Regions from separate parts of the Homo sapiens genome. Here region 2 is linked to region 1. Evidence: fine-mapped expression QTL. A gene starts in region 1. The other region holds a variant in brackets. All regions are shown on one strand. Distances are from middle to middle.

Evidence for each region. PIP is the estimated chance that this variant, and not a neighbour inherited with it, causes the effect.
Region 2: its variant is the best candidate, but not a certain one, in a credible set for the expression of SPINK5 in thyroid (GTEx, PIP 0.51).

Annotation. Positions count from the first base shown.
Region 1 is chr5:148,051,687-148,068,162 of GRCh38, reverse strand. SPINK5 (serine peptidase inhibitor Kazal type 5) reads right to left here and starts at 4,183. Exons shown (of 33, transcript NM_006846.4): 1 at 4,064-4,183; 2 at 2,791-2,816. The coding sequence starts at 4,118.
Region 2 is chr5:148,031,741-148,048,893 of GRCh38, reverse strand. No RefSeq gene overlaps it. Among named protein-coding and RNA genes, the nearest start is that of SPINK5, 24 kb to the left of the region's middle. The variant T/C (reference allele first, on the strand shown) is at 8,433.

The DNA of each region.
Region 1 (16,476 bases):
GGCATCTTGAGACCTGTCTGATCTCTGATTCTACAGTATCAAATGCCAACTTTGCAAGTTATGCTTACCTTGATGAATATAATTGATCCTAAAATCCATATAGTAGAATCAGAGAAGAGCCTGGGGTCTTTGTAATGAAAATATATCCCTTATTAAGTAAGTCTTATAGAAAGTATATAGACGACTCATGATAATCCTGGAATAAAGCTCTAAATAATTTTGAAAGCTTATCATAAAAGAGTAGCATCAGGCCAGGTGCAGTGGCTCATGGCTGTAACTCAGCAATTTTGGATGCAAAGGGAGGAGGATTGCTTGAAGCCAGAAGTTCAAGATCCTCCTGGGAAATATAATGAGACCTTGTCTCTACTTATAAGAAAAATTAAAGAGTTGCATCAATAAGAATAATCCCTAAATTGGACTTCTCCAATATCACTGTTAGATGAGAACTTAATTCCTAGAAAGACTCCCTTTCTTACAAACTGAGCATCAGAGGCCCAAATAATAGGTTAAGAAATTTGTTCACAGTGATTAATTAGTTAAGATGAGATTCAATGCTATTTTTCTGAGTTATGAAATTATCCAATGTATTCTCTTGGGAAACAGGAAAAGACCATAAAAATGGAAAGCAGCAGTTGAGTTTTTCTCTGAGCAAAATGGAATACCCTTTCAATGACCATAATAGAGAGGGTTGAAACAGAAGCATATTTAGACCAAAAGTCATCCTGAGTTGAGTAGATGACTTTTCAGCACCTGTTTACTTGCAGGGTAACTTCCAGTCCCTGGCCTGTTTTTGTTTTGTTTTGTTACTGTTGCTGTTATTCTCTTTTTCTCAGCATGTCCCAGGAAAACTGGAGCCCTCTAGGGCCAAGTTCTTCCTGTTTCCCTCACTGGCTGAGGCCTAATTTGTTGTCTTCTATTGTCCATCTCCAGATATTATAATAAAACCCTCCAGGAGCTGCCATTGCCCTATCTCAGTGTTAGAGCACTGACCAGCTTGCTTTTGCCTGAAGAATGACTCTTAGGTGATGACAAATTTAAGCATGCTTAAGATCCTTGCAGATTGCTGCAGTGCTTTTCCCTGCTGTTTAGGTTCATGTTTATGACATTTAACATGCTTTTATCATGCTGAAAGGAACCCAAGCTACTAAACTTGGAAAATAACCAAAATCACAGCATCGTAAAAAAGACTACATCAATAGTTTTCATTTCTGACACAGTATCCAAAAACTCTGATTAGAAAGGCTTCCAAATAAATAATTACTTCTTTGTGTTCTTGCCTTTAATACCAAATATAAGAAGTCACTAAATTTGTTTTTAAAATATTTTTCAGTGAAATAGAGGTTAATGCTATGAAAAATAGCAGTGTAAAATTCACAGTATCTGCCATAAATCACCAACCATCATCACGGACTCTGAAAAAGAAAATGATGGTTTTATACACAATGATATTTATATAATATCCTTCTTTTTTCCCAGTATAAAACTTCCAAGTGAGCATGCTCTCTGATTCCCAAATGTCTAGCTTATTTTCTACTCTACTGAACTTTCTGGACCTCTCCCTATCAGTAAACTTAGATGAAATAGTAGAGAACATGATAAAATTCTCTAGAACACTCATGTAAGAAGTTTCTTTAAAAAAAATCATTGCAACAAAATACGGCAAGAGAGTATTTTAACCATGGTTCTCAGAGTTTCAACGTAAAGAATAGCTGTTTCACATTTTTATTCCTTTAATGTTCGTGGCCAGAGATAAAACAAATTTTGCCACATATTCAGCAAAACATTTAAGATTGTGCTTTAAGTGCTGAATTAATAGCATGCATAGCAGTGTGTGTGTATATAAATATATAAAATGTGTGTGTGTGAGTAATTGGTCATCCTATCTTTCAAATAGATTAAAAAATTTAACTTCTAGTAGAAAATGATTTTTTAATTTATCAAACAAAAGAGGTTTAAGAGTTGGTAAAGCACCTTCTTGCGTCAGGGCCTCTGCGCTCACAGGTGCTTCTGTCTGGCCTGCTGTAAACTGCAAATACCTTCGTGGTTCATTCCCTTATGACCTTCAGATTCCTATTCTAATACTGTCTGTCCAGAGAGAACTTCCCTGATTATCCTTATGAGAATGGATACCACCTCCATTCTCAGGGATCCTATTATGCCTCCTGATTTATTTTTCTCCTAGCATTTATCATTATTTAACGTACCATATGTTTTGCTAAGCTACTTATTAATTTGTCTGTTTTCCTACACTAAAACGTAATTTTCAGGGCAGGAATTTCATCTATTTTGTTTACTTAAAAATAACCCCAGCATCTCAAACAGGGTCTGACATCTAAGAGATGCTCAATAAATATTCATTACATGAACTATATACACCGACTATATACAAGATACAGACCACCCTCTTTTGCATAATGATTACTAGAAAATTTATTTCAGCTTCCTATGTGGTGTATCATGGCTTGTTGAGATGTTAAATGGAACAATAGTAGTTTTCCAGTTGATTTATTTTTTGTTTATGAAATTTTAAAATGCTCCTTTAACATGATAAATTGCCTCTTGCAGACATCCATCATCATTAATATGTTGAGTGTGTGTGTGTGTGTGTGTGTGTGTGAGAGAGAGGCTCATGTCCTGATTCATAAAAATCTGTTTCTGTGTTTTTAACAAAAGCTATTAGTACCTACCAGTATAATATGTTTGTATTATTAACATGAAGGTGTTGGCCACAAACCACTTTTCTTTGGGAATCTTGGAATGAATTCAATGAACAGAAAAAGCAGGACTAACCTGATCTTCATTCTTACTGGCAGCATCTGGGATGAAAATATAGAAACCAAAGTTAAGGAAATGTAAAATATTTAATAAACAAAACAAATAATCCATTTAATGCAGCATCTTGATTGCTTTAATGACAATATGTTGTAAAACCGCAAATGGTTTTTGAACACATTAAGATTTATCATGGCAAATAAAAGAAGGGCACTGGACCAGGAGATTAGTATATATACTCACAAAGGTCTAATCACTCAGAAAGTTACAATTACTTTGGAAAATAATACTCATGTGAATTCTAACCCCATCAAAATAGCTTATCTTCAAAAGGTCCTTTCGGAGTAATAAATGCCAGCCTCCCTTTTAAAATTACAATATAACATACACACAAAATACTATACCAATTATAATTTTGAAACTATATTATAGTTGAAACTATAATATAGCATTACATTTATAGGATATATACATAAAATTTAATTTTCTGAATTCTGGCAGCTCTACCTCCTTATTACAGCTGCAAAAGTTAGAGATCTGACAGAAGGTAAGATTAAGGTCACAGGCTATTATACTCTCTCATTAACATAGGCTCTTTTGTACCTACACACCTATTTTAGGAAAATGGGCATTATTTGTATATGATTTCAGACTATCTATGAGTTTCTCTTTTTAAAAATTTTAATGTTTCAGAGCAACGTAAGTCTAGGCAATTTGTGTTCTCTTAGGGTTAAATAGCAAATATAAAAATCTACCTTCCAGCTCCCACAAAAGTCCCTCACTCTTTGGGAGAAATGCTTTCAACCCATTTAGCATTTGAAAACACAAGACTAAAATAAGCTAGAAGATACCACTGCTTTAAAATAAGAACAGATGATTGAATTTTAAAAAATATTTCATTTATACCTATAACATTAAAATACATATATTATTTACAATTAAGTTTTAAATGTCTATTACATATATAAGAATATGCATTATGAATTGATACATTTAGCAAGAGGAAGATGAAGAAGAATCTATTCAGTTTTCTGAATTAATAAAGAATTAATGGAAGAATTTCTCATGGTTAGAAAATTCAGATTATCTCAAACTACTTGCCATTTCTAAAGATAACAACATAATTATAAAGCCACATATATAAATCTTCAGAACTCTGTGTCTGGCAAGACATTTCAGGATTATACATGCATACGTAAACATTTTTTGGCAGGAGTAGGGGGAGAAAAGTCCCTTCCCCAGGGCTTTGAGATGTGTGGCAAGAGGCTTAGATTACACACAAATTGCTCACCTTGTATGAGGCAAAGAGCCAAGGGCAGAAGCACTGACACTGTGGCTATCTTCATGTTGAAGACGATGCAAGTCGCCTACAGGTCCACTCCATGCATTGCTCAGCTGGTGCAGTATGACTGAACTCGGGGCGATGCAGTTTACTTTTATAAAGCACTGGTGACACCCACATAAAACCAGTTGTTCAAGGTCATGGGACTTATATACCACACCACTTTAGCTTCCATCCTTTAGGATCCTGTCAGGGTGTCAGGTTTGAACAGAGAATATCTATTTCTAAAGTAGGAATGTTCTTTCATGGTACCTCCCCCAGAACGCAATTGATGGAGTCCACAGACCCTACTCAAAGTTGAATATTCTATAATCCTATATAATAACCGAATTCCTCAGAAATACCAGATATACTACCTCGTAGACAAACATGTTTCTGACTGGACTCCCTTCATAAGTGGGAGAGGAGAGGAAAGGAAGACAGATTGGTTGTCCTACCAGTCAGGTATAGATTTAAAGATTTCCACATCCAGAGAAATCCAGGGTTCCTGTTCTGAAGTGTCTGAGTTCAGTGTCACAGACTCATATATATGTTAGAGTTGAACGACCCTAAAAGATAACCTGGCAAAATTCTAATGTTGAATATATAGGGAGGCAGGAACTCAGAGGAGCAATGACTTTCTCATAAGCAGACAGTTTAGTTGGAGCAGGCAGAGGAGGCATCCAGCACTTGCAAGCAGACCACACATATAACATTCTTTCCTCTCTGTACACTGCTTCATCCTTAGACATTAGAAAAGGCAGGAACGTTGGAAAAATAAAACTTGTATGTAACTACTTTTAAAACTTCTCAATCTGCAGGATATTTTATATTCTGAAGCCTTATTTTATATCCTAGCCAAACATCATAATCATAAACATTGGAGACTCAGTTTAACTTTCCATAGCCTATGATTACCCATATTACCGTTTGAAAAATTTGGCTCAATCAGTTTTCTCTAAATCATATTTCTTCCTGTATCATCCCATTATTTAGTCTCCCAAAAAGAAAAGAAGAAAAAAGTTGTTAACAATTATAAATGTGTAAATGTAACATTTTTCTAGAGAAAGTTTCTTCTCTTTAGTTGCTTCTTTCATCCTACAAGTAACACCTTTTTTCTACCAGCTTATTTTGCCCTAATAGCTTAAGAAAGCACCTGAAGAAACATGTGAAGATGACTGAAACCAGAGCCAAATTGTTTCATTCCAGTACTTCTCAAGATATTCACATCCACAGAAGAAAAGTTCGAGACTTTATCCAATTAAAGGCCTTTTTATGATGGTTCCAGAAAACTGATCAAAGTTGCCCAACTTAGGGAGTATGCCAATATTATGAGATTTATCACAGTGAGATAATACGTCCTTTCTTTTTTCTCTCATGAAATAATTTATTTCCTATAAAAATATAATCACTGGGCCAGGCACAGTGTATCACGCCTGTAATCCCAGCACTTTGGGAGGCCAAGGCTGGCGGATCATGAGGTCAGGAGATCGAGACCATCCTGGCCAAGATGGTGAAACCCCATCTCTATTAAAATACAAAAATTAGATGGGCTTGGTGGTACGCACCTGTAGTCCCAGCTACTCTGGAGGCTGAGGCAGGGGAATTGCTTGAACCCGGGAGGCGGAGGGTGTGTGAGTTGAGATGGCGCCACTGCACTCCAGCCTCAGCGACAGAGCAAAACTCCATCAAAAAAAAAAAAGATATACACACACACACACACACACACACACACACACACATACATATATATACACACACATATATATATATATATAAAATCATTGGTTTCAAGGTCTGCACTATTGTTGTAGCTTGGCTCCTTTCCAATGGAATAGTAAAATTAGTGACCACGGAAAGCAAGTTCAAATTCCATTATTGTTACAGGTTAGAAAATCAAAGTCCATCATAGCTTAATGGAAAGAGAATGAGACAGGGTTTCAGAAATCTGTTTCTATTCTATGTAGTCTTTTCAACTATGTAGGGATAGAAATGAACCCAGCTTTGAAGCAAGCTAGAAATGGGTCCAAATCTTGAATTGTTAGCCATGTTGCCTTGGACAAGTCACTTATTTTCTCTAAGCCTCAGTTTCCTAATATGTAAAATAAAAATAATAACACGTACATTGTACTAGTGCTAAGAGGTTTAGAGATAAATCATATATATAATGCGTGTGTGTTTGTGTGTGTGTGAGAGAGAGAGGTGCTTAGAACAATTATCAAGTTTATGTGATAAGCTTGATAGTTAATGATAGCTGGTCTTGCATTTTTACATAATTATAATAACGTGGTTGTACTAGATAATTTCTAAGATACCAAGAAAAGTAAACATCTGTTGACTGTGGATTTCACCAATAGATTTATATTTACTCAGCATAGAAAAACTACCCCAACACAATTTGAGGTGAAATTAAACTATAACGATATATGTTCTCTTTTTCCCTTTTAATTGTATTTTAAACCATAATGCCTAAACAAATCGAAACATCACCTGTTAAAACTTAACGAAAACCATTGCTCTGTTTCAATCAGCATTGATTTCTTGTCTCTTTCTCTAAAAGCCTCTTCTAAATATTCACATATCAATACTAATTTTTTATCTTTCATCTGCCCTGTCAGACCATACGAAATGTGTCCCAACCATATATTCTGTTATTGACGGTAAAAGAGTTTGATGCCTTAAAATGGAATCAATGACTGTGTATTATGCTCTAGTGACCCCTAGCCTAGCCCAAATGGAGAATATTCCCAGGAGTGGAAGTGGTGCTAGGGTGGAACAGAAGAACCAAAAGATGATTGCCTGTCTTAGGAATCTCTACTATGAGGAAACATTGAAGACATTGGTTTCCTTCTTACTGGAAAAGAGCTCCTCAGAGATGCCAGCCTTTTCTGAAATGATGAATAAAAAGTTTGAAACTGATATCTTTTCCAAATGGAGAAAGTAGTAAAAAGAAGATTCAGTGAGCACCCCCAAAATTGGAAGTACTCATCAGCTGGCTCATTTCATTAGGGCTTCTTCTCCATTTCATTTTAGGAATGTTGTAAAGCCAGAGGTGATTCATCACATGCTCTGTTAATTACTCCTCATTCCTGAAAATCACCATGAATATTACATTTAAATGAATGGGATTGAAGGTTTGGAGAACTCAGGTTTGGGTCAGAGTTAGGTTATCAAGGTATTCTTCTAACTCAAAATATCATCCTTGTTTTTAACTCTTTCAATTATTCATCAAACATGTAGAAACTTTTTTCCTCTCATTAGAAATGAGTGGGCTTAGATAATAAAAACTATGAATTTTACAACCTTACGCATTTATGAGGTTGGCAGAATCTGAAGGATACTGATACAGGGGGAGGAAATGAGAAAATTATAAAGATTGTTGTAGATCAGTAATGTTACTACAAACAAAGGTTATTTCCAAAATATAAAGTTACCATATCATTCCTAAAGTCTTCTGTTTTTCTACACAGAGGGAGCCTTGATGACGATAATAGTTAATAAATAACTATAGTCTTTTATGATTAGATCACCTTCCACAGCTTTCAAAACAACCTGCCATTCATTAGCTCTTTTGATTTGTTTATGCAGTGTTGTGAGGCAGCCAATTAGGTGTTATTATCTTTTCTTTACCAGCCAAAATTGGTGTCATAAAAGAAACCTGCAGTAGGAACTAGCTGGGATGGTCATCTCAGCCTTGACACTTTCTTACATTTTATACCTTTAATTTCTCTGAGTTTCCCCACGGCCATCTCACAGACTTTTATACCGTTCAAAGAGAATCCAGATCGAGACCATCCTGGCTAACATGGTGAAACCCCGTCTCCACTAAAAATCCGAAAACATAAAAATTAGCCGGGCGTGGCAGAGGGCGCCTGTAGTCCCAGCTACTCCGGAGGCTGAGGCAGGAGAATGGCGTGAACCCGGGAGGCGGAGCTTGCAGTGAGCCGAGATCGCGCCACTTCACTCCAGCCTGGGAGACAGCGAGACTCCATCTCAAAAAAAAAAAGAGAATCCAGACGTTACAGTGCTTTAAACTAGATACAGCCCTATGCATGCACACACACACAGACACACATACACAATCACTTGGGCAAAAAGAGGTATGTTGTGACCATGAGTAAAATTTATATATTCTAATATATCTTAAAAGATGAAATAATTTCTTTTTTATTTTTTTATTTTCTTTTCTATAATTCTAATATTTTCCCCCATCAATCTAACATGTCTATATTCTCCTGTTTGTTTGTTTGTTTTGAGGCGGAATCTCACTCTGTCCCCCAGGCTGGAGTGTAGTGGTGCAATTTCGGCTTACTGCAAGCTCCGCCTCCAGCGTTCATGCCATTCTCCTGCCTCAGCCTCCCGGAATAGCTGGGACTACAGGCGCCCACCACCGTGCCTGGCTAATTTTTTTTTTTTTTTTTTTTTTTTTGTATTTTTAGGAGAGACAGGGTTTCACCGTGTTAGCCAGGATGGTCTCGTATCTCCTGAACTCGTGATCCACCCGCCTTGGCCTTCCAAACTGCTGGGATTACAGGCATGAGCCACCGCGCCCGGCCTATATTCTCCTTTGTAAAAGACACTAACTGGAAAACAGCCTTTACTCATCTTCTTATCTGGTAATGTTGCATTACCAACTAACTTCACTCTCTCTGTAGGAATTCCTTTCTGTTTGTCTGGAAAGACTAAGAAACTAGAGATAAGCCTCTCATTTTATCTAATAATAGAATGGGATGGGCATTGTTTGTTTACTGAGTATATAGACCCTGCTATTTACAGACATAATTACTGCTTTTATTAGATTAGGATTAAGAAGACAGGAATTTCAATGTCTAATTTTTAATTGTATTAATATTTTCATATGGGTTATATTTTATTTTAGAAACAACAATCAGCTTCTCCCTATAGCTGATATTACTTGAACCCCTGACCCATGGCCCCACACTGTTTATCACTCAAAAATTTAGTGCATTTTAAAGTCTCCTAGGATTTATCCTGACAATAGAAAACAGAGGTTTGAGGAGCTACAGTCTTTCAATAAATCATAACAAATTAATCCTGAAGTACCTAAGAGTCTACCGGCCGGATGTGGTGGCTCACGCCTGTAATCCCAGCACTTTGGGAGGCCGAGATGGGCGGATCACGAGGTCAGGAGATTGAGACCACCCTGGCTAACACGGTGAAACCCCGTCTCTACTAAAAATACAAAAAAATTAGCCAGGCACGGTGGCGGGTGTCTTTAGCCCCAGCTACACGGGAGGCTGAGGCAGGAGAATGGCGTGAACCTGGGAGGCGGAGCTTGCAGTCAGCTGAGATCACTTCACTGCACTCCCGCCTGGGCGACAGAGCAAGACTCTTTCTCAAAAAAAAAAAAAAAAGTCTACCTAATTTTAGCAAAAAAGCATTGCAAATTTTATATGTGTAATATGTGTGTGTGTGTGTGTGTGTGTTTACAGTAGGGAAGAATGAAACTGTTAGATTTATAGCAAAGTTAGAAAAAGATTATCTTTACAAAATAATTTGTAGGCCGGGCACCGTGGCTCACTCCTGTAATCCCAGCACTTTGGGAGGCCGAGGCAGGCAGATCACGAGGTCAGGAGATCGAGACCATCCTGCCTAACATGGTGAAACCCCGTCTCTACTAAAAGAAAAACCCGTCTCTACTAACAATAATAAAATTAGCCAGGCGTGGTGGCGGGCACCTGTAGTCCCAGCTACTCAGGAGGCTGAGGCAGGAGAATGGCATGAACCCAGGAGGCGGAGCTTGCAGTGAGCCAAGATCACGCCACTGCACTCCAGCCTGGGTGACAGAGAAAGACTCCAACTCAAAAAAAAAAAAAATTGTAAAGAAATAAAATTTGCTAACACATTTCATGCACTTAGGTACAACAATAAATATAAAGATTAAGTATCATTTTATTCTTACAGGTAAAGCAACTGAGGTTTGGTGAGATTCTATAACTTTTCCAAGGTCATACAGCTTGTAAGCAGTGATCTTGCAAATGATCACAGTCAATGTAATAAAGGCATTCAAACTCCAGAGCCCAGCTTCTTAAACACTACACACCGTAGTAACCACATTGCCTACAACTGTAACTAATGTGTCTCAGGTACTCAATGTTAAGAGCTAAACTCTGTCTGCCCAAAATTTATATGTTGAAGCCTTAAACCCCACTACTTCAGGGTGTGCCTATATTTGGAGATAAGTAAAAGTGGTGGTTAAGTTAAAATGAGGTTATAAGGTTAGGCCTTAGACCAAACTGATTGATGTCCTTACTAGAAGAGGAAATTTGGACACACAAAAGAGACACTAGTGATGCACACACAGAGGAAAAACCACATGAGGACACAGTGGGAACTTGCCCATTACAAACCAAGAAGGAAGCTTCAGAGGAAACCAAACTTGCTGTCACTTTGATCTTGAAATTCTAGCCTCCAGAAATGTGAAAATATAATAAATTTATGTTGTTTAAGTCACCCAGTCTGTGGTATTTTGTGGCGGCAGCCATAGCAAACAATACACTCACCGTATGTATTGACCCAGTCACATGCAAACTGTGTAAAAATGTATAGACACAGTTATACGGTTGAAAATACAGTCTTATGTAGGCTCCTTTCTCTTTAAGTAACCAGTACATTAAACTTATGATCCTGTAGAATAGTGTTAAAGAGAAACAGAGCTGAATATTTATTAAAAGTGGCAAGACTCACTTTATCTGGGCTATTCCAATAGAGAAAAGAAACTCCAGTAGAAACCAAGCTCAATTCTGCTAAAACCAGAGGCAGGATGCTTTTTTAATGCTGAGGTGTGCTGTATTAGTTCATTTTCATGCTGCTGATAAAGACATACCCGACACTGGGAAATTTACAAAAGAAAGAGGTGTATTGGATTCATAGTTCCACGTGGCTGGGGAGGCCTCACAATCATGGTGGAAGGCAAGGAGGAGCAAGTCACATCTTTGTAGCAGTCAAAGAGAGATTGTGCAGAGAAACTCCCATTTTTAAAACAATCAGATCTCAAGAGACTCATTCATTATCATGAGAACAGCACAGAAAAGACCCACCTCCATGATTCAGTCATCTCCCACTAGGTCTCTCCCACAACACATGAGAATTATGGGAGCTACAAGATGAGATTTGTGTGGGAACACAGAGCCAAACTACATCATTCTACCCCTGGCTCCTCCCAAATCTCATATCTTCACATTTCAAACCTGATCATGCCTTCCCAACAGTGCCTCAAAGTCTCAACTCATTTCAGCATTAACTTAAAAGTCCACACTCTGAGACAAGGCAAGTCTCTTCCACCTATGATCCTGTAAAATCAAAAGCAAGTTAGTTACTTTCTAGATACAATGGGGGTACAGCCATTGGGTCAATACAGCTGTTCCAAATGGGAGATATTGGCCAAAACAAAGGGGCTACAGATGCCATGCAAGTCGAAAATTCAGGAAGGCAGTCAAATCTTAAAGTTCCAAAATGATATATTTTGAATCTATGTCTCATATCCAGGTCATGCTGATGCAAGAGGTGGGTTCCCATGGTCTTGGGCAACTCCACCTCTGTGGCTTTGCAGGGTACCGCCTCCCTCCCAGCTGCCTTCACAGGCTGGCACTGAGTGTTTGTGGCTTTCTCAGGCATATGGTGCAAGCTACCTGTGGATCTGCTATTCTGGGTTCTGGAGGATGAAGGCTCTCTTCTAACAGCTCCACCAAGTGGTGCCCAGTAGGGACTCTGTGTGGGGGCTCCTACTCCACATTTCTCTTCTGTACTGCCCTAGCAGAGGTTCTCCATGAGGACCTCACCCCTACAGAAAACTTCTGCCTGGACATCCAGGCATTTCCATATATCTGAGATCTAGGCTGAGGTTTTCAAACCTCAGTTCTTGACTTCTGTGCACTCACAGGCTCAACACCATGTGGAAGCTGTCAAGGCTTCAGGCTTGCACCCTCGGAAGCCATAGCCCAAGCCATGGCCCCCTTCAGCCACTGGAGTGTCTTCAACGCAGGGCTGCACACAGCAGAGGGACCCTAAGCCTGGCCTAGAGAACCATTTTTTCCTCCTAAACCTCTGGGCATGTAATGGGAGGGGCTGCCACAAAGGTCTCTGATATCTCTTGGAGACATTTTCCCATTGTCTTGGGGATTAACATCAGGCTCCTTGCTACTTATGCAAATTTATGCAACTGGCTTGAATTTCTCCTCAGAAAATGGATTTTCTTTTTTTTTATCACACTGTCAGGCTGCAAATTTTCCAAACTTTTATGTTCTGCTTCCCTTAAAAAGCTGAATGCCTTTAAGAGCACCCAAGTTATCTCTTGAATGCTCTGCTGCTTAGAAATTTCTTCTGCCAGATACCCTAAATCATCTCTCTGAAGTTTAAAGTTCCACAAATCTCTAGGGCAGGGGCAAAATGCCACCAGTCTCTTTGTTAAAACATAAGAAGAGTCATCTTTGCCCCAGTTCCCAACAAGTTCCTCATCTCCATCTGAGACCACCTCAGCCTGAACCTTATCATTCACATCACTATTAGCATTTTTGTCAAGGCCATTTAACAAGTCTCTAGGGAATTCCAAACTTTCCCACATTTTCTTGTCTTCTTCTGGACCATCCAAACTGTTCCAACCTCTGTCTGTTACCAAGTTCCAAAACTGCTTCCACGGTTTTGGGTATCTTTTCAGAAACACCCCACTCCTGGTACCAATTTACTGTATTAGTCCGTTTTCATGCTGCTGATAAAGACATACCCAAGACTGGGCATTTACAAAAGAAAGATGTTTATTGGATTTACAGTTCCACATGCCTGGGGAGGCTTCACAATCATGGTGGAAGGCAAGAAGGAGCAACTCACATCTTACATGGATGGCAGCAGGCAAAGAGAGCTTGTGCAGGGAAACTCCTACTTCTATAACCATCAGATCCTGTGAGACTTATTCACTATCACAAGAACAGCACTGGAAAGACTCGCCCCCATGATTCAGTCATCTCCCACCAGGTCCCTCCCACAATACATGGGAATTATCGGAGCTACATGAGATGTGGTGGTGACACAGACCCAAACCATATCATGTGCTAAAGGAAAAGTACTAAAGGAGATGTCAGGGAAGGTTGGTCATTGTGGTTAGGCCATTTGTGTTTGCTAATTTATAGATGCAAGTTTTCTAAAGTAAATGCTCTAAGAAATGGGAGGTCATGGGTCTACAGTCAGGTAAATAGTAAATTATTTAGGTAGCATTGAGCTTTTCAGATAGGAACTTAAGCAGGGGCTGGGTCATCAGGAACATGTTCTTGAGGTATTAGAAACTGTGGTAACATTTGTTCAAGCCTCTTAGTACAAAGGGAGGTAGACATCATCATTTGGGCTAAGAATTTGCAGTTCTCATAGGCCAAGGTTAAGGCCCAGTCAAAAAGAGGGTTCAGAGGAATTTGATTAAAGTTTGGTCGAAGAAATAATCTTTGCCATTAGATAAAGTAGAAAGCCAACTGGTTAACAAACTTTCAGGTTGGAGTTCACATATTGCATTTGTTATCAGTCTTTTGGCTCCTTTGTATAGATTTTATCTTTTGTACTCTCAAGGGCTTTAATGCACACATTTTGATGTCCTCCAGCAATGTGTGTAACAGAGCTAGACAGACTTCCAGACTTCTCTTGCTTTAACCCAAATACCGTTCACCAAAAATGTTTACTTGATAACGTTTCCCATTACTAAAGCATTCACATATTGCTTCTTTGTTTTGTAGGATGATCTTTTCCTTTACTTCTATATCTTTGCTTGTAGGATTCCGCTTAGACTGTGTGTTCCCAGAGGCTCCCTTCCTGACCCTTAATAGAGTGTTCTTACTCTTTGCCCCTCAGTACCCGGTGCCATTACTACTTCCACACCTTGCACTCATGACACAGTCTTGAAATTGTCAGTTGACTTGTCTATCTCTCCAATTAGATAAATGATATTTTTAGTGAAATCAATAAATGAATGAGTAAAAAAACCCAAAAAGATGAATTCCGCTTTATAATCTACAACAAATTTCCACAATTACTGTTTTATTTCATCTCAGTTGCTTTAAGAAAGAAGGCTGGTTTAAAAGGAAGGTAACAAAAACGTAGAGAGGCTCAGTGACTCACAGCAGGCCACATGGCATGTAAGCGGTCAAGCTGAGACTCAAATCCATGTTGTAAGGTTTAAAAATTAAGAATGTACCAAGTTAAACAGCACTAACCATTGTGTCACACCACAACCTTGATTCAATAGACAGAAAAAAAAAGGAAGAAGCGAATGAGTAATAACTCTAAAATCAGGGAATTCTCAGGCGTGGGACCAACTCACTAAAATGTGATTTAAAAATTTAAAAATCTAAACCCAAGGTTAAGAAATTATTATGGTATTCCAGATGAGCTCCATAATACTCTCCAGGTGAATATGACAAATATTAACTAAATGCCTGCATTTGCCTAGCACTGTGTTAGAGCCCAATGTTAAACTTCTAAAAAAAACAGATAGAATCTCTGACCTCTGAGAGGTCAAATTTTAATTTTCATATTTCTGAGCAAGAAACTATACATAGTGGACATTTATTTGCCATCCACATAAACAACCCTGGAAAAAGTAATAACTGTCTTTTGTCTACAGTACAGGGACTATTTTTTCTGTCTCTTCTAGATAAAAAATACTTGTTATGCTGCTGGGAAAAGTACTTAAAAACTGTATAGAAAATTATTTAAGTACTTCTTACAGTTATTAGCATTACTAAAGGCATTTGTTTGTTATATTATTATAGAGCAATTTTATGTATAATTTATTGCCTAATAGTGCATAGTTATAGAATAACTTGTATAATACCAGTTTGCACACAATATGTGTGTATTAATATTTAAATATTTACATTCTGTTTATTTTATATAGCTGATCCTCACCTTTAAATTAAGGAGAGAGAAGGTGTTATTTCCATTTCATGGATGAGAAGTTTAAAGATCTGCATGATTGACTAATTTGTCTCAAATCTATTAGCCATAAATGGAAGAGCTGAGACAGGAACTCAGGCCTCGTGACTCATGTTCTGATATATTTTTTTCATATTCAACAGAGTTTTAAACACCAACTCAGTGACACTAGGATATGAAAGAAAAGGAAAATATGGAATGAGTCCAAAGGAGAGGTATATCTTTAGAAAAATAAAGAGAATTGAAAGACATCAATGGATTGAAAGCAAAAAATGAACTTAAACTAGTCTTGGTGATGAAGGTAAATACTAACACTTGTAAAATGCTTACAAATTATCCGTGTTTTTCTGTATGCATTCTCATTTGTCCTCATGATCAGCCTGTAGAATAGGCTGGACATGTATCATTGTTATCATTCTCAATTTACTGAAACTTAGAGAGATATAGGAGCTTCCCCATAGACACAAATAATAAGTGGTGATAATCAGAATCAGATAGAAGTCTATTAAATCAAGATTCTGTCTTTTCCTTATGTCCTTCACCTTTCTTAACAATGTTAAAGCTGCTTGAAGACATAGCTTTTATAATTTTATTAGGAATCAAATAATGTGAAGGCTTTAATTGGGGAAATGAGAATATTAATATGCCGGCTTTACATCCTGAAAATAGAAACACAAATTGAGGTGTGGGTTAAGGAATACATCAGTTTATTTTTAAATTATAAATATGATTTCTGCTTCTGGCATAAATGGAATAACAGAAACTATTTTATTCTTTCACCTGAAACAATGAGAAAAAAATAAAAGCAAAAGCAATTGTTTTTGACACTGGACATGATATAATACAGTGCAGTGATTCTTGGGAGGGGGGAAACAAACCAAGTTATCCCTACATTACCACAGTTCACAGCCTGTAGAAAGTTGCCAGGCTGTAGCACGGAGAGGGAGAACACAGGTAGCTAATAGAAGCTTCCCTGAGATGATCATACAAACCTGAGGGTCTGTGAGACCAAAGGAGGTAAAATTTCCGTGGCATGTTAACAAGAAGAGAAAGATTCAAAGAGAAACATTTGGAGATTTGTGGCACATAGTTTATTTAGAATCTTCAGTTGAGTACTGACAGGTAAATGTACATGAGAAAACTACTCCAGGCTGCAGAAAGAATCACTCTAAGGATTAGAAGGAATGATTTCCAGAACTTACATATGGGAGGAGATAACTTGTGTTCCTGTAAGTCAGAAAGAAAAACCTTGCCATTCATTTACAGATTAGAGAGATGTGTTGCCCCAGTAGTGGGGCAAAATTAACCTCAAAGCCTATTCTGGTTCCACCTAACAAAGCTTAAAAACAAGCTTAAAATGGGCAAACTATTTCCAAGTAACTTAATTGTGTCCCAGGACAAAGTTCAAAGATATTTACAGGAATACAAAAAATATCCATCACCTAACA
Region 2 (17,153 bases), 20 kb after region 1:
AATTACAGCTTATATTTACAGATCCTTTAAATGAGCTGCTACTATCTGGTTCTATGATAGAATAAGTGGATTTTAAACTACACAATTTTTTTTTGAGACAGGGTCTCATTCTGTTGCCCAAGCTGGAGTGCAGTGGCATGTTCTTGGCTCACTGCAACCTCTGCCTCCCAGGTTCAAGTGATTCTCGTGTCTCAGCCTCCTGAGTAGCTGGGATCACAGGGGTGCACCACCACGCCCAGCTAATTTTTGTATTTTTAAAAAAAATTTTATTAAACTTTAAGTTCTGTGATACATGTGCAGAACGTGCGGGTTTGTTACATAGGTATACGTGTGCCATGGTGGTTTGCTGCACCCATCAACCCGTCATCTAGGTTTTAAGCCCCGCATGCAGTAGGTATTTGTACTAATGCTCTCCCTCCCCTTGCCCCCAACACCCCCAACCTGACAAGCCCCAATGTGTGTTGTTCCCCTCCCTGAGTTCATGCGTTCTCATTGTTCAGCTCCCACTTATGAGTGAGAACGTGTGATGTTTGGTTTTCTGTTCCTGTGTTCTCATTGTTCAACTCCCACTTATAAGTGAGAACATGCAGTGTTTGGTTTTCTGTTCCTGTGCTAGTTTGCTGAGAATGATGGTTTCCAGCTTCATCCATGTCCCTGGGAAGGACATGAACTCATCCTCTTTTATGGCTGCATAGCATTCCATGGTGTATATTTGCCACATCCTATTTCTCCAGATCCTCTCCAGCATCTGTTGTTTCCTGACTTTTTAATGATTGCCATTCTAACTGGCACGAGATAGTATCTCATTGTGGTTTTGATTTGCATTTCTCTAATGACCAGTAATGATGAACTTTTTTTCATATGTTTGTTGGCCACATAAATGTCTTATTTTGAGAAGTGTTTGTTCATATTCTTTACCCACTGTTGGTGGGAGGGTACTTTAGTTCAACCATTGTGGAAAATGCAGTGTTTGGTTTTCTGTTCCTGTGTTAGTTTACTGAGAATAATGGTTTCCAGCTTCATCCATGTACCTGCAAAGGACATGAACTCATCCTTTCTTGTGGCTGCATAGTATTCCACGGTGTATATGTGCCACATTTTCTTTATCCAATCTGTCATTGATGGGCATTTGGGTTGGTTCCAAGTCTTTCCTATTGTGAATAGCACTGCAATAAACATACATGTGCATGTGTCTTTATAGTAGAATGATTTATAATCCTTTGGTATATACCCAGTAATGGGGTTGCTGCGTCAAATGATATTTCTGGTTCTAGATCCTTGAGGAATCACCACACTGTCTTCCACAATGGTTGAACTAATTTACACTCCCACCAACAGTGTAAAAGCATTCCTGTTTCTCTACATCCTCACCAGCATCTGTTGTTTCCTGACTTTTTAATGATCGCCATTCTAACTGGCATGAGATGGCATCTCATTGTGGTTTTGATTTGAATTTCTCTAATGACCGGTGATGATGAGCTTTTTTTCATGTTTGCTTGTCACATAAATGTCTTCTTTTGAGAAGTGTCTGTTCATATCCTTCACCCACTTTTTGATGGAGTTGTTTGTTTTTTTTTCCTTGTAAATTTGTTTAAGTTCCTTGTAGATTCTGGATATTATACCTTTGTCAGATGGATAGATTGGAAAAATTTTCTCATATTCTGTAGGTTGCCTGTTCACACTGATGATAGTTTCTTTTGCTGTGCAGAAGCTTTTTAGATTAATTAATCACAAATGGGTGTTGGATTGGTCAAACACTCTTTTGTGTCTATTGAAGAGATCTTTTTGTTGTTTTTGATGTTTTTGTTGTTGTTCTTTATCCTATTAGTTATGTGTATTGCATTGATTGGTTTTTGGAGGCTAAGTCAACATTGCATTCATAAAATAATCCTTTTTGGTCATGGTGTACAGTCATTTTTATATGTTGCTAGACTCATTTCACTAGCATTTTTAAGCATTTCTGGGTGTGTGTTTATCAGGGATATTTATTCATACTTGTCTACTTGTGATGCTTTTGTGTGGCTTTAGTATTAGGGTAATACTAGCCTCACAGAATCAATTGGTAGGTGTTCCCAATAGTATTCCTCTATTTTTTGGAAGGGTTTGTGACGAGTTGACATTAATTCTTCACTAAATATTTAATAGAATTTGTCAGTTAAGCCATGTGGCTGTGGGCTTCTCTTTGTGGAAGATTTTTAATTAATTGACTCTCTATAAATCTTGGTTTTACTTCGGTCATTCATGCCTACCAAGGTATTCATCTTTAATTTGTAGTATTCTACATTTTTAGTATTTTAGGCAGTTGGTACAGAAGATTCTGGAAGTTCAATGTAGGTGAATGAGGTTTTGATGTTATCAATTAATGACCCAAGGTTTCTTCTGTGTAGTGTGAATAATATCACTATAACTGCTGTAGTTAGCACCCATTTATTTTGTGAGTCAAATGAATTAGAAACAAAGAAAATCTAAAGAAAAAAAGACTTAACTATTGGAGGAAACTGGGTAAAGTGTACACAGAACATTGTTGTACCATCTTCCAAATTCCTGTAAATCTTTTTTAAAACAAATATTTTTTTAAATTATGAAACAAAATATTTTTTAAAACAAGTTTTTACAAAAGAGGATTTTAAAATCCTACCTACACTTACTATATGACCTAGCAATCTAACACTACTTATTTATTCAAGAGAAATTAAAACATATGTCTATACAAAACCCATAAGAGAATATTTATAATGACCTGATTCAGAATCACTAAACACTGTAAACAAGCCAAATGTACAACAACTGATGAATAGGTCAACCAACTGGCACATCTACATGATGAATTTCTACTCAAGAATTTTAAAAAAGAAATACTATACCTGCTACAACATGGATGAACTTCAAAAGAATTATTCTTAGTGAAAGAAGCCTGAAACAAAATGTTACATACTTTAGGATTCCATTTATAGGACATTTGTAAATGGACAAATTTTAGGGGCAGAAATCAGAACAGTGATTGCCATTTGCTGGAGATCAGGGGAGGGGACTGACTACATAGGTACACATGGGAGATTTGGGGGTGACGAAAATACTCTATATCTTCATTCTGCTGGTGGTTGCATAAGTGATTTTGTCTACCAAAAGTCATGTAACTGCACACCCAAACTGTGAATTTTGCTTTTATAAAATGTATCTCAGTAAACCTAATTTTAGAAAAAAAAATCATATTCATTTCATACTATTTTTAAAGCATTATATATGTCTGTGTTAAGGGAGACAGAAATGGGTTTTCAAAAAAATCTTAACATTTGTTATCTCTGATGGGTGGAATTACTTATGACTTTTTAATGTTTCTCTTCCTACTTTTCTTGCCTGATAAATTTTCTGCACAAATTAGGTATTATTTTTAAGAACAAAAATGAATTTTTTTTAACTAAGTGAATATATATCTTTTGGGCTGGATAGAATACTGAAATTCATCTAGCACACCTCCTTCCTTTAATTTACAGACGAAGATAGGAGGGCTAAGACAAATAGAGTGCATTTCCTAGTTATTTCAAGTTTAAAAATAAGCAGCCTACACCCTCAATGACACCTTTCCCTGATATGATTCAACTACAAACGTCATGATTTATTTTGATGGAGAGGAAGCGTGATCGTTATCCTTTTAAAACACCCACACCGTAATTCCAAAGTAAAGTACAGTTGACTTGTGAACAACCTAGGTTTGAACTGCGCAGGTCCATTTATACACAGAGTTTTTTCACCGAAAGGCATATCCGAAAATACAGTATTTGAAGGATGCAAAACCGCCTATACCAAGGACTCACTTATCACATCAAATTGAGTAGGGTAGCTACAGGACTTAAGAACCTGCAGATTTTGGTATGTGCGGGGGTCCTGGAAATCAATCCTGGTCTATTCTGAGGTATGACTGTATTTCGGGATTTTCCTGGACTGTCTTCTCCAGACTGACCCAGACAGTGCGTCAACAGAGATCACTTCTCCAGTCTGCACCATACAGAGACCAGTGACATTTTGGAAATGTGTGACAAGCTAACACTTTGACCTCAGGCAAATCACCATGAGTATCATCCCCTTGATAAGACCATTGAGCAGATCGGGATGATTACATTACAGAGCTGAAGCATCTATTATTGGTAACAGTCAAGCTATACATAGCCAAGCCTTCTTGAGAAGGAAGCATAATTCAGAAATTCAGTGTTTGGCTTTGGAGCAATGCTACAGGGGTCAAATTCTGCCTTCTTTGCTGTATGAGGATGGGCAATTTGCCTAAACCCTCTATCTCAATTTCTTCACCACTAAACTGAGAGGTGGTAATCATGATTGTCACAAGGATTAAGTTAATTCATTCATGTTGTAAAGCCTTTAGATGATACTTGGCACATGGGGAATGCTCAATGTTAGCTATCATTAGAAGTCTTTTAATTGTTAGCCTGTTGATTACATCAAACAAGAGATCATAGTGGGGCAATTCACCTCTAAGTTTCTTGAAGTGCTGAATATTTTGTGGGAAGTGCCAAAAAACGTGCCTAATTTTAAGGGTACAAATTAGTAACCTCCAGGGTAGAGAAATCATTTACTTGTTAGTGCCCCTTCCTTTGAACAGTTTATTGTATTACAAATGGTGACGTCTTTGGAAGGAATTGGTTCACCTTCAATGAACAATAGCCACACGTGGCTGGAAGGATTGACAGGTCACTTGAGTCATGAAAAAATGACAACTTTTCAAATAGTTCAGAAAACCAAACAGCTCATTTAAAGCTCTTAAATGTTCAAACATCTTCTCTTCTTTAAAGAGAAGAAATGTCTTATTGAAAAAAAAAATGTCCTTTCATGCTGTTATCAATCCCTCTTATTTCTCTAACTTTCTAGCAAGGTCATGATTGTATTCAAAATGATATTTGTTATGGAGTTAGGAAGTCTGTGTTTTAATTCCAGCCCTCACATTTAGCTGAAGCAAGACTGTGAGCACAGATTACATTCCTAAATTACTCATGAGGTGAGGCACACTGGGAAATGAAACAAGAAGACAAAAAGAAGGCAGACCAATTAAACCGTACTTGTCGAGTATATCAGCCAATGTAATAAAAATATTGCCTCTGCAGGTAGCAGTACCTGGAACATAATAGCACTCAATATATACAGAATTAATTGATGACATCTTAGACCAGAACATTCCACCATTAAGTTACATAGAAAATAGCTATGAAAAGAGTGACAAAAGAATGAGATTTGGGGTCAAAACTGGGCCCCTCAACTTGTGTGTGATTTTTGACACGTTTATTTATATCTGAGCCCATTTTTCTTATTTATAAAATATAAATAATACCACCTATATATCAGTTTTGTCATGAAAATATAATTAAACTGTAAATGAACGTACTCCACAAGCTCTAAGGCGCCAAGCAAAAGCTAGCCCGTGTTCCTGATATGCCAAAAGCCTGGGTTAGTCCAAATTGGCATTGTGTGGGTCAAGCCGCCTCAACTCCTGCCTTCACCACGTATACTCACCTACATGGCTAGCTCATTGTATCTGTAAATTTCAAAAAAGGTAGAGGATGAGAAAAGGGAAGAAAGAGCTGACACTTTTCTTTTTTGCCTACAGATTAATCAATAATATACAATTTTTCATTAACATGAATCTTTAAAAAATACAATTTGTTGGTGTCTGGGTGTGGTTGCATTTTAAGATGCCACTGCTCTGAGGGTGGCTGGCAGCGGCACCAGGCCAAATCCACTGTGGGTGTGGAAACATCCAGAATACAAGTATCGCTCCACCCTGTTGTCATGTTGCCTAATTAGCTGGTATGCATGAAGCTGAACTGGAAAACAAAGCTTGGGAGTCAAAGTAATCTCTCATCTTAAAGCTGTGATGCAATGGGAAAATGGCAGCCTACTTATGGAGGAAACAGTGAATATCCTCTGACGTCCGTTTTCTAAGAGAGGCGTATGTAGAGACCTGGGCTCTACAATTCCCATGGAAGTTTACTCTTGATTCCTTGCCCGTTTAGGTTATATTTCTGAGCTCAAAAAAATAGTGCTTACTCCAGAGAAACTGTTTAGCCTAAGGCCTCTTTTCCAAGGGGAAAAATGACTATCATTTTAGGGCAAAAGAGCTGACTTTGCCAGATCACACTTTCTACCTCCATTTCTCTTTAAGTAGTGAGGATGGATATAGAAATGAACCTTGTGAGACAAGGAAAAAAGAAAGACAGAAAACCTGTTAGTTGGGCTCTGACAAGAAAACACACTCAGCCTTCTTGAGAGTCTAGTTCTAGAGAGAGTTCAGTACCCAAAGAACCAAGTATAGATTTATGAAGAGTCACAAACTTACCATAGCCTTTGACCTAGAATGGGCTGCAGTATATTCTAGTAGAGCATATTTAAATCCTTTCATTTTATTAAGAAGCTCTGGCAAGGGGAAGTCATTGATTCAAGAATAGCTAGAAAGTGGAAGAACTTGAACTCATTCATATTCTCCTGACTCCCGGTCCTAGGTGGTTTTCCCAAACCACAGCTTCTTTTTCAATCTTCCACCATGTCCGATTTTGGGGATTGACTCGTTTCATCACCCTGAATTCCAGGGGACAAACACACTCATCTCATATACAGCATTTTATATCATGGGTTTAACCTCCAGTTTGCATTTTTCTTAGCTTTGCTCCATTTTATTGCCTCTCAGCTAGCGGCAATTTTGCCCTTCAGGGGACATCTGGCAACGTCTAGAGACATTTTTGGTTGTCACAACTGTGAAGGTGCTATGGGATCTGGTGGATAGTGGCCAGGGATGCTGCTAAACACCCTACAATATTCAGGACAAACCCTTATCCCCGAAAAAAAAAAATCATCCCATTTGAAATGTTAATAGAGAAGTGAAGAAAGAAACTCTTTTCTCTGCTTAATAACCAGAATTAGCTTCAAAGCTTTGTTCATTATCTTGGTGATCAGACAGTCAATTCTGAAAGAAGGGACTCTGATATGTTACTTAGAGGGGATATAGGTACTGATAGAAAAAGCCAAGTAACAATTTTTTTTTTTTTTTGAGACGGTGTCTCGCTCTGCAGCCCAGGCTAGAGTGCAGTGGCACCATCTTGGCTCACTGCAACCTCTGCCTCCCGGATTCAAGTGATTCTCCCACCTCAGATTCCTGAGTAGCTGGGACTACAGGCGCTTGCCACCATGACTGGCTAATTTTTGTATTTTCAGTAGACACAGGGTTTCACTATGTTGGCCAGGCTGGTCACAAACTCCTGACCTCATGATTCGCCCGCCTTGGCCTTCCAAAGTGCTGGGATTTACAGACATGAGCCACTGGGCCCAGCCAACACTTATTTTTGAATAATCTACTAGATTGGCCAGTTTCTCATCTCTGATTTTAAAAATCAAATCCTTACTCTAGTGAGTGCAGAATGCCCCTCAAAAAACATTGAATCCATCAATTACCCATTTCAGCCAGAGATAGGACCATTTCAAATGATGTACAGCACTGGATTTTTCACCTTGGTCTTTCTACCTGTCTCCTCTAAGTTTTCCGATCATTATTATGTCTTCTAGCATCTCTACAGCTGAACTTCTCTGAGATCTAATTTCTAAACCCTTTCTTTTCTTCTTTGAGTGGCTTCCCACCTATGCTAAAACTTTAACAAGCTACTCAGAGACCCATAGTTTGTCACATTTTACAGCTTTATTTGTATTTCTAACTCTTTAGTCTTACAACCATGGTCTATCTCAAACTTGGGTTCCAAGGCTTACATTCCTAACTTGCTCTCTGCTTGCTCATTTAGAACCTTTCTAGTAGTCTTCCGGTCTTTCTCTGAGACTTACAATGTTTCTGCCTTTAATATATCTAACTTACTGTTTAAGCAATAAAATGTGCTCAAATAACACCTTGAATATAACCATAATATACATAATAAATAGAAGTGTTATGTGTTTAAGCAGAGATGAGAACAGGGTGCTTCAGCCAGCCTTCTCCTTTATTGAAAGTTCAAAGAGCATAACTTTTTAAATCATCAGTTTTTATCCAGGATCTAGCACACTAAGGACATGCAAAGAGGTATGTACATATTTATTGATATATTGATTAACTGGTGAAAAGGAAAAAGGCATATATAAAGAGTTTGAAAATCACAGTAATGACAATTGTGAACACTTTCTCCCTGCCATGTTTTCTCCTGTATTCAATTGCTCTGAGGTATGTCATATATCAGCTGAATGTTTCTCACGTTATGAAGAATTGTATGTTTCCGCACTGAACATGTTATTCAGACCTGCCATCCCTTTCTTCATTTTTAAAATCCACTTCTCATTTTTCATTTCCTCTATCAAAAACCTTTACTCATTCATTGATTCAGTAGTTTTTTAGTATCAGTTTCAAAGTTCTGTGGGTGTTACTGGCAATGAATCAGATACAAACCTTGCCC[T/C]AAAGGAGCTTATAATATAATAAGATGGAGAAGGCATATCCCTAGTGTAACCTACTTTGAAATGAAAAGTTATAACTGCCAAAAAATAAAGTCCCATGGGAATTTGGAATGGGGGAATTTACTCCTAGCTGAAAGATAAAAAAAAAAAAAAAGTATAGGACAAATAAAATTTGACAAAAACCTTAAGAGATGGATGATCTGGACACAGATATGTGGGTAAGTCTCAAAGGAGAATAGTTGGGGGGAAAGTGATATTGCAGAGTTTAATTAGACTGTAACAAAGGTGAATAAAAATAATGATAGACATGCTTAGAAAAAAATTTGAGTCCAAAATGCAAAGGAAACAATACACGGATCATAAGGGCTCATCCTGCTTTATTTCTCATGGCTTTCCTATCTGATATTTTCTGTTAGCAAATCTCCTCTTTATAGGAAGTTAATATACTCGGCTAATGTTATATTGAAGCAAACATCTTGGCTAACTATTCTGCTTTGAATATTTACTGAGTGTGGCCAAATCCTTGCATGCCAAATTGAGGAGTAAACTCTTCATAACTTACCTCCATAAATTAGAAAATATAATCAGTGGAAAGAGTTGTCAATTGTGCATCATCGATATGGATATATCTTTATTAAAAGTTTGGTAAAAGTTAACACAAACTACATTTTAAAATGCAACTGCAGTAAACAATTTTACTGGAAATTAGTCCAGCTGTACAAATAATAATTTGGAAAAAAAGTAAAATGAAAAATTATCAAAGTTGCTTTAAAAGAATACTGCAAGCTTGTGCTTTTTAAACATATCTATAAATCTATATATCTATTTATATCCATCTATACTTATCTTTTTTTATCTACCTACTCAAACATTCATTGATGATAACAGTTGCTATGACAAATGTAATAATAGACTGGTTAAAGTGGTGAGGCACAATGATTTGGAAGTCAGATATATTTAGAATTGAGTACTGATTTTATCATCAAAAAAAGTTACGCTATATGAAAATTGCACTCTCTGAGCCTCAGTTTCCCTATCTGTAGAATGAGGGAGAAAGACTAGTTGATCCATCATTTTCTTCCCAATTTTATGATGCAATGTTATTACAAGAGCACAGTATCAGTTGAGGAATCTGCCTACTCCCTTAACGTTGAAGTAGAGCAGTTTCACCTGCTACAAGGAAAGTTCTCTGTCCACCTGGCTTCAGGAACCATTCTCTCCTCAAACCTCCTCTAGGACACATGTGTCAACTAGATCACCCATTTAATACAATATTTTAATTACTAAATTATGAACTGCTTTTTCTTTTCATAGCTATGTATCTAACAGTGCAGACTCAATGTCTTATACATGTCTGTAACCACAATACCTAAAAGAGTATCCAAAGATGACAAATTTTTGTTGACAAGGAATTTTTTTTATTTTCTTGTCTTCCTAACATTTAAAAATTTAAATACCTAGAATGTATTCAAAATTGTGGATGTTGCCTGTTCCAAAAAAATTTTGTCATTAATATTAGTCCCAGATACTATAAAATTATTTTCAACTTAATTATTCATAACTCCAACAGCTCTGTGAAATATTTTTACTGGAATTTCGTGGCTGAGAAAAGATGGCTCCAAAGAATTAATTTCAGGACATAATTTCTAGGAAGTGTCATAGTCGAGGCTAAACCACATATATTCTAACTCTTGCCCTAGATTTCTTTCCCCTTCTAAATATCCATATGTGCTAATTAATTACTTTTAAGTCATCAATTTTCTCATCACATCTCATTTAAATGTCTCCTATCTCTCAAGACCCAATTGAAGCTTTAACACCTCTCAATTTTGATGTAATTTCTTCCCCCAAACACTTAAAAACCATATTTCTTGATCATATGCCAAGCTTACACTGAAAAAAAAAGAAAGATGGGTTCAAGCATTCCAACATACTGCTAGAAAATTCAGGGAATTTCAGAATATACTACCTATAGCCTTTTCAAGGAAAATAAAGAAAAAGCCAACCAGAAAAACTATGAGTTTCTATATGTCCCCTCATGTGAAATGAAATTGATATTGGCTGTTGCTGCCAGCTGCTGTCACATTGCCCAGCCTCCATCACTCTCAAATCTGGCAGTGTTGTCTGATCTATATCCCTATAACATTTATTAGCAAGGAAGGCAAGAACATCAGCTTTCCAATTAGATCAGAATCTTAAGTTCTGAATCCACTCTTTACCAACCATGAAAGCATTAGCAAATTACTTAAAATTTCTGAGCCTCAAGTGAGATTAAATTATTTCATAAAGTTATTATATTAAATATTTGAAAATTCTTAGGCTTTCATAGGTATTCAGTAAGTGGTAACTATTAATAGTTCCTTCCAAACACGAATCCTACTTTGTGACTTCTATCCACAAAAATCCTCCAGTGACTCCTTCCCGCCTTAGAATCAAGATCTTTCTATTCATCTCTGCTTTTCAAAGTCCAGATAATTTTGCTATTGCTTACTGTCTAAATATTTGTAAACCTATGTGATTCTTTGTCTTTGACACCATCTTGGCTTATGAATCTGTCTTCTTATTCCTTCATTTACCACTTTGGGAAGAGTAAAGATTTTAAAGTTAGACAGAGACAAACTGTGTTTGAATACAGACTCTACCACTTCATACCAATGGGATCTTTTCACTTAATCTAGTCCCCCTTTTAAAAGTGATTGTAATTCCAGGATTGCCATAATATCTCCAGTGCTTATAGCTAAGGGCCCAGAATATAGTAGGCACTCAGGAGTTGGTAGTGATGGTGATAATGAGGATGATGGTTTTTCTGGCTAAGCCACACATATTCTGATAATGAAGACACCTGAACAGAAACACAGAGAGTAGAGAAAGTTTTTCCCTTTCAGTATTTCAATCAAATCCTAACTAAATCAATACTGACTTATTCAGCTTGTGTGTATTTTTTCCTAACTACTAGAGTTTCTAATACCTGAACCACATAAACTATCTTACACTGTTTTCTTTGTGTAAATGAAACATTCACCAACCAGATGTCTTGTAGGTTGTCAGTAGCAGATAATGATTAAAAGCACAGATTCTGCAGGTAAATGACTAGCTTTGCATCTGTCACTGACTGTGTAAACTTGAACAAGTTATTTTACCTCTCCTTACCTCAGTTTACAGATACATAAATTCTGGATATTAATGATAGCTATGTCATAATTAAATAATTAAAGTTAAGTATATATACACATATGTATGTATAAATAAGTATACTTATTGAGAGTTTATGATTGCCAGGAACCATTCTAAGTATTATATACATATATATACACATGTATATAAGTATATATAAGTATATACATGTGTATATATATGTATACATGTATATACTTATATATACATGTATACATATAAGTATATACATGTACATATATAAGTATATACATGTGTATATATGTATACATGTATATACATATATACTTATATACATGTGTATATATATGTATACATGTGTGTATATGCATGTATATATGTATATAGTGCTTAGAATGGTTCCTGGCAATTATAAACTCTCAATATTATTATTGTTATTATTATTATTATTTCATTTCTTGTTCTCTCTGATAATCCTCTTCCCGACTCCCTCCCAAAAGATTCAAAATTAGCCAAAGAGAAGGCCCGCAGTCCTTAATGACCAGAAAGAGGATTCAATTTGGATTCACAAGGCTTAAAAAGAAAAACACTAGCAATGCTGGGAGAGTTTGTGGAGATGAGCATTGTTTATATGGTGCAGGGAAAGTGTGTATTGGTGCAGCCTTTTGGAAGAGCAATATGGAGGGTCCATAAATATCTTAAATGGTCATATAGTTAATCACTAACTGTGTAAACTTGAATAAGTTATTTTGCCTCTTCTTGCCTCTGTTTACAGATATATAAATTCTGGATATTGACGATAGCTATGTCATAATTAAATAATTAAAATTAAGTATATATACACAAACATATATATATGTATAAATAAAACAAAATAACAACAGAAACTTAAACATACACCCAAAGAAAAATGGCAAAATTCAGCATAGGATATCTATCATGCAGCTTTTTAGACTTCAGCCTATCAACCCTCCAGTTCTAACATTCCATTACCACAGCCTAGCTTAGAAGATGTCTCCAGCTTCAATACCATCTCCAAAAACGTAGGATTCTTATGAGCCCTTTCTGTTTAATCTCTCAGTAAGTCCTATTGACTCTTCTTCTACAACATGAATCTCTTCACAGAAACCGACACCACCATCTCTCACACGGACTGCTGCTCTGGCCTCCTCATTAGCTTCCTTGCCACTATCTGGATTTTCACATAGCAGCCTGACATGCCTTTTAAAAAATAAATGAGATTAAGTAAACAACCAGCCTAGAGACTTCTGATGGTTTTCCATCAAACTTCACATGTGGCATTAGGTCCACACTCCCAGCTGTGGCCTACAAGTTGCAAATAAATTTTTCTAATGTCAACTTGTACTATTGTTTCTTCCACTCACTTATAATATTCTGCTATGATCAGTCCCCTTCCTATCTCTCAACTGTGCCAAGCTCACTTCCACTTTAGCATCTTATAGCAGGTGCTTCTTGTGCCTGGAAAGCCCCTGCCATTGATTTGAGAGTGGCTGGTTCCTTTTTATTATACACAGCTCAACTTAAGATATTATTTTTTCAGAGAGACTTTTCTTTACAACCAAATCTAAAGCAGATTGTCCTCTACTACATCCCCAAGACCAGTTGCTTTTTAATGAAATGGCTTATTTTCATTTCTTTATACAATAATTACTGTCTGAAGTCTTCTTTTTGTTAACCTATTTACTTCTCTACTATTTGTGTTTCCCACCAGAATAGAAGCTCCACAAAGCAAGGACCTCACTTGAGAAAGAATTGCATGTTCTCTCTCGGTTTTTACTTCATGAAAATATCATTTTAAACTTATTGTTATCAGTATTATTGCCTATGTTATTATTATTTTATTGGCTGAGTTGAGAACTTATATTTAGTTTTTCCTACTTCAGAGCAAAAATAAAAGCATTCTTTTCATAGGTATTATAAACCATAAATATAACTTCTCCCACTCATTTTTCTTATTTTTCCATTTAAGAAATAGTAAATCTATTAATTTTCTCCTGATGATCTCAATTTTGCCTCAAATCTCATTACATCTCCAGCCATGTTTTCATAAATTACAATGTTGATAATAATTAAGATTTGTTCTGGTCATTTAACCTTAGTTCATTTAAGTATCCTCAGTAATCTGAAGAGGTAGCATGATACCTATTTTGTGAATAATATCTAACATTTATTGACTAATTATTTTGTGCCAGGCACTGTTAAAAGTATTCTTAATTTATCTTTGCAACAACCCATTTTACAGATCAGGAAACCAATGAATAGAGAAATAAATTAGCTTGTCTGAGATTTTACACATTGTTAATGGCAACTTTGGGATTCAAATCCAATTCATCTGAATCCAGACTCATTTTCTTAACTTCCGTACTATCTTGCTTTCCAATATGGAAAAACTTCCTTTGGGAGAGTTTGAAGGATTTGAGAGTAAGTGGCAGAACAGAGTTTGAACCAGAAACACATATAGTCAGTTCTTCATGTTTATGGGGTTCCTCATTTGTGGATTCAACCAAGCACAGATAAAAAATATTTGAAAAAGAAATTGCATATATGTACTGAAAATGTACAAACTTTTTTCTTGTTGTTATTCTCAAAGCCATACAGTATAACAACTATTTACATAGCATTCACATAGTATTAGGTATTATAAATAATCTAGGGAGGATTTAAAGTATACAGGAAGAAATGCCTAAGTTATATGCAAATACTTCACCATTTTAAATGAGGGACGTGAGCATCTGCAGATTTTTATATGGGGGAGGCCCTGGAGCCAATCCCCCAAAGATACCAATGAACAACTGTTCTCTAAACCAGTGATTCACAAACTTTTTGGCACCAGGGACCGGTTTTGTGGAAGACAATTTTTCTGTGGACAAGGGTTGGGGGGGGGAATGGTTTTGGATGATTCAAGTGTATTACGTTTATCATTAGATTCTCATAAGGGGCATGCAACCTAGGTCCTTTGCATGTACAGTTCACAATAGCGTTCATGCTCCTATGAGAATCTAATGACTGATCTGACAGGAGGCAGAGCTCAGCTTCACTTGCTTAAACCCTGCTCACCCTCTGCTGTGCAGCCCAGTTCCTAGCAGGCCATGGGCCAATACCAGTCTGTGGCCCCGGGGGTTGGGGATCACTGCTCAAAAGTGTTACACTATTTAGTTTATTCTAAAGAGATTTAGTGCCACAATCAAGGTCATGAAACTTCTCTTGACTAAGGAAGTCATTAGAACCCAAGGCTTCCATCCTCCAGTCACTGCTCATTCTCTTTTAACTGCCCCAGTTCATTCTCTATGGAAAGTTTCCCTCTTCACAGGATTGATTAAAATCCTGTGGCTGTTCACTACTCACTGCTTACACTCACTTTTGTCCCAGCAAATGTGAACACACAGGACTGTCCCAGAAAGGGAACTTCAGTGAGGAATTGCAGGAGCACAAGATAACAGATTTTGCTGAGAAGCTGCAGCACTAACAGCTGTCCTTGACTGAGCAGTACTCAAGTTCAAGGCACTATGAACACTTTGCATGCATTAACTCATTCAGTTCTTTATAACAACACTGTGAGGTAGCTATCATTACCCTCATTTCCAGGTGAGGAAACAGACTCAGTGAATTTAAGCAACTTGCCCACGGTTTCACAGATAGAAGTGAAGCACCAGGATTTGAATATGAGTCTGTCTGATCCCATAGATGACCCCTAAACACTACACATAGAGAGATTACCAAGACATAATTAGGCAGAAGCTTTGCATAAAGTCTTCTTTTAAGTCTCTTTATCAATGACTTTTAGAAATGTGATATAGACAATTCAATTAATATGTCACATGGGAAGAATGCTAGATGTGGGAGGGCTCAGAAATCAGTAAGGTCATCCTGAGCTACAAAAGTTTCTGACCTTACATTACAGAGGTGCATAAAATGTTCCACGCCCAGACATGCAATGTCATCCTCTCACTGGATGACACATTCAAAGCTGTCATTCCCAATATTGTCATGGTATCATGGCAACTGAATCAGGTCAGAATTCCTGCATGTTAATTATTGCAAAACAGTGGAAAGAGCCTCTCATTCTCAGAATTCAAAAAATCTTCAGAGTTCATCTAGCCCAATCCCTTTCATTGTATAGGTTAAGAAACTGAAGTCCTACTGGCATTAAAACACTAGGTAGCAACTTGAATGACTCTCAGCGACATTATATGGAGTGAAAGAAGCCAGACACAAAAGATTATATGGCATATAATTCCCTTTATAAGAACTTCCAGACAGACAAAACAAACCTATAGTAATAGAAGTTCAAACAGCAATGTCTGTGTCTGGGGGGAAGAGGCAATGACCATAATGAGGCACAAAGAAAACTTTGAGGCAATAGAAATGTTTTACACTTGGATCTAAATGGCGATTATACAGATACATGTTTACATAAATATTATCAAATTGTATACTTAAGATCTGCAAATTTTAATGTATATAGAGCATGCATTAATGAAAAGAAAAAAAAAAACCTGCCTATATTCCTGTCTGAATTGCATTCTTTATTGAATAATACCTAGAGATGCTTTTCTGGTAGATTTAGAATTACGTTTAGAATTGGAGACAAGGAAAATTGAGGTACCGAGCAGAGAGCAAGTTTTCTCAAGATCATATAATATGGAAAGAGCTAGAATTAGATTTTACATTTCCATGCTGTAATGCCTTGGAAATATCTGGTATTATGAATAAGTTTCGATGGAGGCCCCTGTGATAAAGTGCATAAAGCAAAGTAAAACCAATATTGAGTTTGAAGCCAGATAATCTGTACTCAAAGATCAGTAATACCATTATTTGTATAAATTACAATGCCTGGCACATGGCAGGCATTCAATGGATTTTTAAGGGGGTGAATAAGGTAGATAGAATTAAATATAAATTATTTATCTTTTCTAAATCTAGGAATGATAAAAATGAAAAACATTTGAATATTTTAAATCAGTAATCCTCAAAATACATTCAATAAAAAATGAGATACTTACAATTGTACCAATAGAAAAAAGCTTTCTAGGCTGGGTGCAGTGTTTCCTGCCTATAATTCCAGCACTTTGGGAGGCTGAGGTGGGTGGATCAATTGAGACCTAGAGTTCAAGACCAGCCTGGCCAACGTGGCAAAACCCCATCTCTAATAAAAATACAGAAATCAGCCAGATGTGGTGGCACATGTCGGTAATCCCAACTACTCAGGAGGCTAAGGCAAGAGAATCGCTTAAACCCGGGAGGTGGAGGTTGCAGTGAGCCAAGATCGCGCCACTGCACTCCAGCCTGGGCGACAGAGCAAGACCTTGTCTCAGGAAAAAAAAAAAAAAAAGAAAAAAGCTTTCTAGAGTCCAATGTGTTTGCCAATTTTAGTTTAAGCAAATTAAGTAACTTTGCTTGTCTGCAGAACTTCTGTTTAAGTGCTAAAAAATATTCCTAGACCAAAGAGATTCAGCTAAATGAAATTCCTGCAGGAAAATAAAGTTTGTAGCATTTTCTAAAACCATTTGATCACCAAATCCTCCTAGATTAGAATGTTTACTAAAATCTCACAAAGCAGAAACATA